2 separate regions of the Homo sapiens genome follow, and region 2 is linked to region 1. Evidence: fine-mapped QTL for protein levels in blood plasma. A gene starts in region 1. The other region holds a variant in brackets. All regions are shown on one strand. Distances are from middle to middle.

Region 1 (5,361 bases):
TTTAAGTTGAACAAAGCATTCAATGCCTGCAGAAGCTTGAACGTACATCCCCCACCTCCTTACTTAGAGCCACCTCCTTACTTAGAGGTTACAGTTGATAATAAAATATTAAGGAGATATGAATATAATACAATAATATTAGGGGGATGTGAAGCATTGACTGCCCCCAGAAATGGGTGAGAATCCTATTTCACTCCTTTAAGAAGCCTTGCTGTGCACTTTAGGAGGCTGAGGTGAATGGATCACATGAGGTCAGGAGTTTGAGACCAGCCTGGGCAACATGATGAAACCCCATCTCTACTAAAAATACAAAAATTAGCTGAGAGTGGTGGCGCATGCCTGTAATCCCAGCTGCTCGAGAGGCTGAGGCATGAGAATCGCTTGAACCCGGGAGGTGGAGGTTACAGTGAGCCGAGATCATGCCACCTCACTCCAGCCTGGGTGACAGAGTGAGACTCCATCTCAAAAAAAAAAAAAAGAAAAAAAGAAATCTTGCTGTGTGCATCAATGTGGGGATGCAAGGAGCTTCCAGCACAGTTCCCGCATGCATCACTTACATTCAGCTGCAAATCACATGGAAGAAATAACTGGAAGAGAGGAATACAATGAAACAATGCAAGGCAGTTGTCAAAAGTGGTGCCTGACGGGGGGGTCAGTGCTGGTGGAACAGGCATCTAAAGCTTAAGAACAAAGAGGGAGCTGGCTGTGCCCCTAAGTGGCCACAGAAGGCTCTGCCACTCCCAGGGACTTCCATTCTCCCTTTCTTCCTGCACCTTCACTTCCCAGCTCCCAGGTATCTCCCTGATACTCCTTCATACTTTAAACTTAGCTTCCCGCTCTGAGACCTTTTCTTACCTGCAGCAAGTCAAACCCTGTGGGAATAAGCAGGGACAAGAGGATGTTTACTGGTGATTCTCATGACCTCCAATTCCCACCCCTCAAAATGAGTGCTGAATCCTTCCAGCAGGTCCCCTACACCATTCTGGGACTCTTGAGAAATGTGAGCGGCCCTCCCAGTGCATCTTACAGGACTCTGGAAGGAGCAGGAGAGAGGTGCATGGGCCAGGTCAGGGTTCAGGTTCCGGGTTCCAAAGCAGAGGCTCTGAGCAGCAGTCTCCTGTGCTCTCTTCCCTCCTCTCCTCCCTGCCCAGCCTCTTTCTCCGCCCCTTCCAACTCAGACCCTCTTCTCATCGCCTCACCAGAAAGAGGGACAGAGCATCTGGCCAGCCTGCCTTGCCTGAGACTAGGGCTCTTCCTGCCACTGAGTATGAATGTGGCAGCCTGGGCTCCTGGAGAGGAAGCTCCCTGGGGTCTGGAGGCCACTGCTGGTTTGGACAGTTCCAGCTCCAACCTGTCCCTCTGCTCAGATCACAACACTCTGGGGCCTCAGCACAGGAGGCTTTTCCTTATCAGTTTTCTGTCCAAAGGGCGACAAGTGCTTTGGAAACAGTGTCCTGGGAGAACAGCCCAGAAGGGAACAGTGCACCTAATCAGGCTTGCCCCCAGAGAGTTCACCCAGACTGGTATCTAGGACAAAACCCACAACCTCACCCCCCCGCCCCAGGTCTCCTCAGGCAAAGCCCTGAAATAATGTTTCCTTTGCAGGGGACTCGGAATCTGGGGCAGGATGGGAATATGAGGGGACACTCTCCAATGAACTTCCCGATATTCCTGGGGTTCAGATCCGCGTCTGGATGCGTTTCTCGGATTCGGCTCCACACAAGCCTCAGCCCTCCGGACCTTGCACCTCCCCCGCGGATCTCCTCACCCCTCCACCCCCAGGCCCAGATCTTTCCTTGTCGGAATCGCCACGCTTCCTCACTCCTTTACCCCCGCCCCACTCGGCTCTCCTCTTCCTGGTCCTCATCCGGCCAGGCTGCCCCGCCCTGGTAGTTCCCGAGGGTCGTCCGAGGCTCTCGTCCACCAACCGCCCCCGTCTGGAAGAATGCGCCCGCTCGAGCGCACTCTCGGCGGGTGCCAAAGCCTCCCGCCTCAACAGGTGCCCCTGCCTGGCCACGCACAGCTCTGTCACCTGGGGCTCGGACGGAGACGGCGACAGGATCGCCCCCTGCAGGGCGGCTGCGGCTCCGCACGCCCCCGCCCGGGTCCCCAGAGCGCCAAGGGCCCCCGCAGCCCCGCCGCCGCCCCCGCTGTGCCACACTGCCTTTGTTTCCCTGCCCGCTTAGATGTCGCGAGGCTGACTTCATGCAAGGGTATCGCCAAGTTCGGGCGCTGACACTGCCCACCTACCCGTGGTGGCGGACCCTAAGGTTGGGAGTGAGAGACGCGTACAGTGCGAGACCTCTCCTCAACCCAGAGAACTCCGGGGAAGCTGGGTGTCCGCGCCGAAGAAGCGGGTTCAAGTTGACCCGGCTCAGAAGGGGGTTCGAAGCCAGGCGCAGCGCCTAGAGAGCCTTCCCCTACCCACGCCCCCACCCGATGTCCTCTGCCCCCAGAAGGCTGGAGAGGGGCTGCGCACTGCCACCTACGCGCTCGGCTGCGAGTGGTTCCCACCGCCCGCTCGCCGCGCGCTGGGCCCGGCAGCCTTCCGGGGCACACGAGGCTCCCGCAGCCCCCAGACTCCCGGCCCCGGCAGCGCAGAGCCGGGAGAGCCGCCACGTTCCCAGCCGCGCGCGCACGCCGGGCCCACCAAACTTGCAGCACTTTCTCCCAGCCCCCACCCTCTGTCACCCTCCCTTAGTCGGTGCGCCCCAGCCCCGCCGCCCGGCAGAGGTTGCCATAACAACGGGCAGGAATGCTCCAACATATACAAAGCCGGCCCGGCGCAGCGGGCACTCAGCCCTGGCCGGGCCCCGCGCCCTCGGCCGCCGCGCAGGGTCTGGACGCGCGCCGCGGCTCCCTAGCCGGCCGGCCGACGCTCGGGGCGTACTCACAATGAGCGGGATGGTGCGGTCCTCGCGGAGCTGCTCCGACCTCCTGCCTGCCCTCTGCGCGCCCCGGCCGCCGGAGGATGCTGCGTGGGCTCGGTTGTCCTGCCATAAGTAGTAGAAAGTGCCCAGGATCCAGGCTACGGTCAGGATGGCGATGGCATTGGCGCGGATCTTCCTCATGGTGGGCAGACGGGCGCCCCAGGTGGGGGACTGGGCCGGCGTGCTCTCGGGGCCGGGGCGGGGGCGCTCGCAGCCCCAGCTGTTTGTTTTCGCTCGCGCCTAGCTGCTCAGTCCTGCAGAGCAGAAAAAGGAGAGAGGTGGGGGGGCGGGGGGGTGATAGGGAGAGACAGGATCGCGGAGCGATCCTCACGGTCCTAATGCCCTTCAGCCCCGAGCGCGCGCGTCCCCCGGGCGCCCATTCATTCGTGCGCAGGGCCGGCCCCGCGCTCCAGCCGCCGCCGGCTGACCCACCAGGCCACTGCGCACTGGGAGAGAAGCGCGCCGAGTGGGAAGCGGCGCGGGCCTTCCTCCCGCGCCCGGGAACCCGGCGAGACAGACGCCCGCGGCGGAATGGCGACTGGCCAAAGCCAGCCTCGGCTCCCACCGCTAGGTGACCGAACGCCCGGCAGCTGCCCCCGCGCGGCCCTGGTCGGTCCTGCCGACCCACACCCACCCCCGGACCGAGCGGCCTTGAGTCACCGACTGGAGACGCGCGACCCCCGACCTGGGCCCGCGCCGCGAGCTGCAGTTCCGGGCTGCGCTCTGGCGCGGGATTCAAGGTGTGTTCGGCGAGTCCTTGTGTAGGGGCGGCTGGGCGGGGGAGAGTCCTGAGTTTGTACTGGAATCTGCAGCTGAGATTAGCCAGACCGGGCCCGCCCAGAGGAGGGATTGGAAGCTGGTGCACTTGACATTCGAAGAGCGCGAAGGGGAAACGACGCTGCCTCACACCCAGTGCTAGGAGAGTGCGGGTACGGCCCTTCCACATTTTTCGCTGGCCTGGGGCTCCCAGATTTCACGATGCTTCCCTCTATCCCGCCTCATTGACCCCTGGACAACCCTGAAATATCATCGTCAGCATTATTTCATCGGAAAGAAGGGCAGCAAGAGAGGCCGGATGATTCTCCCAAGGCCACACAGCTAATTAGTGGGCAGAGCCCAGTCTAGAAGCCATCTCACCATCTGACACCTTTCGACAAAGTGCAAAACGCGGTGGTGAGAGACGAGGACACAGACATTAAGATTCCGCTCCAGCCCTAGAGGCACTGAGAATCAGAACGTGAACTACTCTTCACTCCAGGCAGAAAGCAAGAGGCTTGGATGAGTTTTAGGAAACCAGCACAGTGTCGGGCACAGAGCGCTCAATGAATAGATGTGTAACAACAAAGTAGGGATCCAACAGAGGAAGAAATAATTTATTGTAAGGTGGCCTTTGGGAAAGCTCTCAGAAAGGTGGATGAATCACTTAAGAGGTAAGGAAGGGGGAGGTGAGGACAGGGGAGAGACTGCAGAAATAGGCCTTGCAAAAATCCAGAGGATGGAAGAGCTTGATGTGTTCAAGAGAGAGAGCTGCCAGGCGTTGCAGGGGGCCTAGGATTTGATAGGAGTTGAGGTTGGCCAGGCTGGGTGAGTCTGAACTCAGGAGGTCCTTGAATGCCGGGGCAGAGTTGTTGAGGAGTCTGCTTCCTGCTGGCACTGCTGGACACCATGGCTACTCCGAAGACCCACATAGGGTCCAGCCTCTAAATGAAGCCATCTGGGGAATCAGGCAAACTGAAGTCACAGCATCATGCCCCCCCACAAGCATCCCATGAGCACCACCCTGACAGATAGAAGTAAAATCAGGTGGCTTTTCTCCATTTCTCCAGCACTCGAGACTGAACCGCACATATAATAGATGCTCAATACATTTCTGTTGAGGTGAAGAAACCCTAGTTGGGTTTTTGCTGAGGAAAACCCAGGGTCATTACTGCAATACGATATCCTCACTCAGAAGACTAATTACGATGACACTTAGACAAGTCCAAAAGTGACCCACGCAGGAATGGGACCTAGAAAGAAGAGAATGCACAAAGAGGGCCTCACAAAGGGTCTACACAAGTAGCAGGGAATTTCAGGCATAAGGTGTGGCAGTCACAACAGGGGCAGGAGTCTGGAGACGCCAGATGCTCTCCCAGGTCTCTCTCCCCTGGGGAGTTTAATAAGACTGCGCCAGGGGCCAGGGCTTGTTTGCATAGATGGAGAAAACCACTGCCAAACCTCCATCTGGTTTCCGCAGGAATCATGGGGCAGATCCAGCGGTGCCATTTGTGGGAGGCCAGGAAAGACCTTGCTCCTTGGGAATCAGGCTCCACAGGCCTCTCAGGTCAACCAAGAAAATGTAAGGGAACTACCCTCCTGGTGCCCCCATTTTCACACATCTCTCAGGTGAGCCAGGTGAAAACTTGGGGAGTAGCCCTGTTGTCATAGGCTG
Region 2 (5,361 bases), 66 kb before region 1:
CAGTGCAGTGGTGTGATCTTGGCTCACTGCAACCTCTGCCTCCCGGGACCAGGTGATTCTCCCGCCTCTGCCTCCCAAGTAGCTGGGAGCACAGGCACCCGCCGTCATGCCCAGCTACTTTTTGTACTTTTGTAGAGATGGGGTTTCACCATGTTGGCCAGGCTGGTCTTGAACTCCCGATCTCAGGTGATCTGCCCTCCCCGGCCTCCCAAAGTGCTGGGATTACAGGGGTGAGCCACCGCTCCAGGCCCCTTTGCCAATTTTTAAATTGGGTTATTTGTCTTTTTATGGTCGGGTTGTTATCACCTCATCCTTTTCTGCCATCTGTCCAAATCCTCCCTGTTCTGGAGAACAGTAGGCACGTGGCAGGGGCCCTCCTACCCTCTCCTCTCTTTGAGAACAACATCCTCTGCTCCCTCTTGCAAGGGCTTCCCAGCCCGAACAAAAGCTCTCCCAGCACAGGATCCTAACTCTCCAAGGAGAAAAACAACACCCATTTGTAGCAGGAGCTTTGTAGCTCACCCAGGCTTTCATCCAATTTCATTCTCACAATAACCCAGTGGGATAATTATGACAATTATCCCCATTTTCAGATGAGAAAACTCAATAAGGTGAAGTCACTCAGGGGGAAGTAGACTATTTGGGCTTCCTACGATGCCTGCCCAGCTTCAAATACTGTCCCATAGGCCTCGGTGCCAGGAACGTAGTGGCTGAGTCCCCAAGGACGCCCAGCTCCCCAGAGACAGTGGCTCACCTCCTTCACCCGCTGCAGCATGGGCGGCAGCCACTCGGTGTTCACTTCGCAGTGGCTATCCAGAAAGGTGAGAACGGTAGCTGCAGCCACGTCCGCCCCACGCACTCGGGACCGGATCAGCCCTACAAGAGGAGTAGATAGGGCTTGGCGCTGGGACTGGGCCAACTGGCTTCCCACCTGTCCCCCAAAGTCCCAAGGCTCTCCTCTCCTTCAGGGGCTGAGGCTTCCTGAGTTATTGTGATTAGATTTGACTTTATACTTCTGCTTGTTTCCTGCCTCCCTCCCTTGCTTCTTCTTATCCACCCATCAACCACCATCACTCCAGGGTCACACCCCGAGTGCCCTCTATGTGCCAGTCACTGTCTGGGCTCTAGGGACACACTGATGAACAGTCACAGTTTAGAGCGTGGAAAGTGCAATAAAGTAGTTTGATCCCAAAGGAGAACCAGAAAACAAAACTTTTTCCCATGGGAACCTCTGGGTCGTCCCCTCCATCCATACCCCTATGTGTAGCATGGAGATAATCTTCGAGACTAAGATAGGCTTAAGTTTGTATGGCAGCCCCTTTCCTTACCTTCAGCATGTTATTTAACCGCTCTGAGCCTCAGTTTTCTTATCTATAAGATTCAGAGAGATAATAATCCCTGACTGTCAGGATCAAACAAGACGACAGGGACAGAGCTTGGTGCCTGGGAGACCCACACATGTCAGGTTCTGTTCTTCTGTGCCTGTCCCCCGATAGCCTCACCAGCCTCATTTTGGGCAGCACTCTGCTCTGGGCGGAGACCTGCCTGGTCAGGAGGGAGGAGGCCCAGCTTCTCCTGCCCCTGCCAGAGTGGCCATGTGTGCCCTGTGAGCTGTGGGAGGGAAGGGCCTCACTCTTAGAGCTCTGAGTATAAGCAGCTCCTTGGAGACATTTCCCTAGCCATGCCTCTGCCCCAGACTCTGCCTCTAGCTGCCTACCAGCCCGCCAGCCAGCCAAAAGCCCATCAATCTCCACTCCAAAAGTGTCTACAAAGCATCGAGTCATAAATTTACATTTACTGTTGTCAAATCCAGGGACAGCATATTCCCAGACCTGACGGTACCTACAGCCCAGTGGCTTGGGAAGGATTTAACTTCGGCCACTTCCATTCTGGTTTGAAGGTCTCCCTCACTGGTATTCTTGTGGCCCCTTGGCCTGACTGGTCTTTCTTTCTTTCTTTCTTTTTTTCGAAACTGAGTGTCGCTCTGTCACCCAGGCTGGAGTGCAGTGGCGCAATCTTGGCTCACTGCAACCTCTGCCTCCTGGGTTCAAGCGTTCAAGTGATTCTCCTGCCTCAGCCTCCTGAGTAGTTGGGGCTACAGGCATGTGCCACCACACCCAGATATTTTCGTATTTTTAGTAGAGACGGGGTTTTAGCACATTGGCCAGGCTAGTCTTGAACTCCTGACCTCAAGTGGTCTGCCCGCCTCAGCCTCCCAAAGTGCTGGGATTATTTTAAACATATCAATCACATCCCTCTCTTACTCTAAAACCTCAGTGGCTCCCTGCTACCTCTGCCTTATGAAGTCAATGCTTTCTTCTGGCTTCCAAGGTCTTCTATCATCTCAATTCACTCCATCTATTCCCCATGCTGACCAGGCCTGGGGTCTCGCAGGAAGGGAGTATGAGTATGAGTAGGCGGCTGGCCTTTGGGTTGGGCCCCACAGGTTGGAGCCATGGCTGCTCTATTCATCACCCTGGGCAAATCGCTGAAGCTCCTTAAACCCCAGTTCCCTTGTCTGTACAACAGGCACAGTGGGCTGAGTACAAGGACTGAAAGTAGCAAAC[C/T]GGATGCCCGCAGGGGAGGAGACCTCAGGAAAGGGGCTGTTAGTATTGCGCATGCCCATACCCCTGACTGATGCCTTTGCTTGCAGAGTGCACAAGCTGGCATGCCCTCCCTTGCTCCCCTTTACCTGTCTCATGATGCCCCCACACCCCATTGAGGCCCATTCCTCCATGGAAGCCTTCCCTGCTCACTCCAGCTCTCCTCTGATATCCATGCTATTCATACACAACCACAGCCAGCCTGTGGCTGCAGTGGATTCTGACCCCTTGGCTATGTAGTAGCTCTCCGAGGGCAGGGACTATGCTTTGTACTTCCTTCGTGTCCCCTAGAGTGCCATGCACAATGCCACGCTGTAGTAGCTACTCCAAAACACATCTGGATTGGAAGTGAGATCACATCTGCTTTATGCTTCTGGATTTTTCTCAAAGCCTTTCCACACAGCCTGTCTCATGCAATCCTTACAATCACCTTGCAAGGCAGAAAGGGACTGTCTTATCCCATTTCTCAGGAGAGACAGCTAAGGCAGTCAGAGATGGAGCAACTTGCCTACAGTTGTGCCTTGATGGGGCTGATCTGGGAAGGAGGAGAGTCTTCTGCAGAACCTGGTCTCAGCCATCAGGAATGCAGCAGGACCATGTTGGCTTGGTGTGCCACGGCACCAAGAGAGAGTGGGGAAGTGCACAGGATGACACCAAGATGGGCCCTTGGTGGGACCCAGGGTGCAAGGACTCACCTTCCCGCCGATCATTGCGCAGGCACTTGACCTTGGGGATCCTGGTCAGGAGTAGACAGTCTTCCGCTGAGGATGCAAAGAGGAAGGCAAGCTCATTTAGACATGGGCATCAGGCCACTAGTGGTTTGGCTGCCATGAAAATTGCCCCATACTAAGCCCAGGAAAGGGTTGGGGATGGGGATTGGGAAGAGGTATGGTCATCACTACTGGCCGAAGGGTTGCCCTGCCCCACTCTCAGGCCAGACTGAGGAGTGCCTGTACCTATGGCAGTACTCCACTCCACCTCAGGGAGCACTAGAAAGCACGCTTGGGGGTGGCTACCAGCCCAGCTATCATCTGCATTTGGCAGTTGTAATAATGAAGGATGCTGTTGATTTTCTTTACTTTTTAAAAACAATATCATCTCACTAGAGTCCCATCCAAAGCAACACCCACCCTTCTTTCCCCTCCTTTGACACCAGGGAACAGGACCAGGGAGGGGTCCTAGAAAAGACAGGATCCCTGCTGGGGGCAGAAAGGTGTCTGCGATGGTCAGGACAACCTCAGGGTGCTTGCCTTGGTGTTCTGGGGAAACAGGGACGAGGGCGGAATGGAGGGCTGCAAAAAGGAAGGTGACTACTCACGATCTGAGCTGAAGTCATCCACTAAAATGATCTCCTGGATCAAGTTGGCAGGAGTTCGGTTCAGGACACTACAGTAGCAGTGGAAACAGAGAAAGAGCCTGGATTTAGGAACCACCTCCCATTTTTACCACTCCCGGGGCCGTGGGACTCCCCAGCCGCCCAGCTCCAGGGCCAGCATGCTGGGCGCTCCTACCTGAATCCTATTCTTGTCTAAGTTCATTGAGGAAATGGGGAGATGGGAGTTCAACTTGACCACAAGCCCAGGCTTAGCAGGAAGAATCCACCTCCAATCCACCTCTCTCTGACACTGACAGACACTGCTGGGCTTCCATCACCCTCCTGAGGCCTCCTGTCTAGCCCGGCCTCCCTCAGCTCCTGACACCTGCATTTCTGCCCTTGTCCTGGACATCTGACCTGGTGTTTGACTGTCGCATTCCTCTAACAGTTTGACTTCTGGGGTCTTCCTGGCCCTGATTCACCAGTCTCAGCCTCTCAGAAGTACAGGACTCAGCCTCCAGCACCTGCTGGGCTTCAAGCTGTCTGGCCACAGCGCCCAATCCCAATGTCCTCCCCTGCCAGCACCACTGAGATGAGAGTCCCATGGCTGGACTTACCTCTTCACTGTGCGCAGCAGGGTGGAACGGGCCTCATTGTGGAAGGTGATGATGACGCTGGTGGCTGGCAGGTCCGAGGAGTAGGACACAGATGGGCAGCTGAGAAGGGAGCACAGAGGTCAGAGCCAGCCATGAGGGCATCCTCAGGGCAGGTCAATGTTTTTCTTTGTCCAGTCTTGTGCCTGAGAATACTTCTGCCAGGCAGAGAAGGCACACCAACAGCCAGGCCAGAGGCCCCGCGCCTCCACCCCCATGCTGCATCCCACACTGGCCCAGAACCCCGATGCCACCCATCCTGGGGTCCTGGGAGGGAAGCAGCAGGTTGGGAGACCTTCCAAGGCCTGGGGGCTCTTTACCAGAGATCTCAGAGCCCCCAGAGGGGGCTCCCTAGTATATACAGATACTGCACCAGGCCCCAGGATACAGCCCTGACCACACTCTGTCGTATGGTGGGGGGTATGTGCGAGAGGGAAAACTACCTCTGTTTGTCCTGATACCCTAGAGTTTCTTCCTTCTCTCTTCCCAGCTCAGGACATTTGGTAGAATCTGCAGAGGAATCACCCCTACCCTGGCTGCCAGGGAATTCCTCCCTGTCACTGCCCAACACTGACAGCCCTGCTGCAGACAACAAGCTGGGGAGCAGTCTCACTCCTCCCAGGGTACTGGGTCCCCTGGAGGAAACAAGCCTCTGTTAAGACACCAAAGGCCTATCCCGTCACTTCCTCCCTCCCCAGCCATCCATAGACACCACATTTTCTGGCCTACTGGCTCCCTCTCCTCTAGAAAGGGAGTGAAAACAATTCATTCCTGCCAGACTTCATCCCTG

The links. PIP is the chance, under the fine-mapping model, that this variant and not a neighbour inherited with it causes the effect. Sun 2018 read protein levels with aptamers (SomaScan).
Region 2: its variant is fine-mapped to the plasma level of the GALNT16 protein (Sun 2018, PIP 0.95).

What each region holds. Positions count from the first base shown.
Region 1 is chr14:69,258,001-69,263,361 of GRCh38, reverse strand. GALNT16 (polypeptide N-acetylgalactosaminyltransferase 16) reads right to left here and starts at 3,204. Exons shown (of 15, transcript NM_001168368.2): 1 at 2,895-3,204. The coding sequence starts at 3,071. It overlaps GALNT16-AS1 (GALNT16 and EXD2 antisense RNA 1), which reads left to right and starts at 2,835. Exons shown (of 4, transcript NR_184249.1): 1 at 2,835-3,072. RefSeq lists a silencer at 2,099-2,158.
Region 2 is chr14:69,323,965-69,329,325 of GRCh38, reverse strand. GALNT16 (polypeptide N-acetylgalactosaminyltransferase 16) reads right to left here. Exons shown (of 15, transcript NM_001168368.2): 3 at 4,536-4,634; 4 at 3,922-3,989; 5 at 3,299-3,364; 6 at 755-876. Among named protein-coding and RNA genes, the nearest start is that of GALNT16-AS1, 66 kb to the right of the region's middle. The variant C/T (reference allele first, on the strand shown) is at 2,568.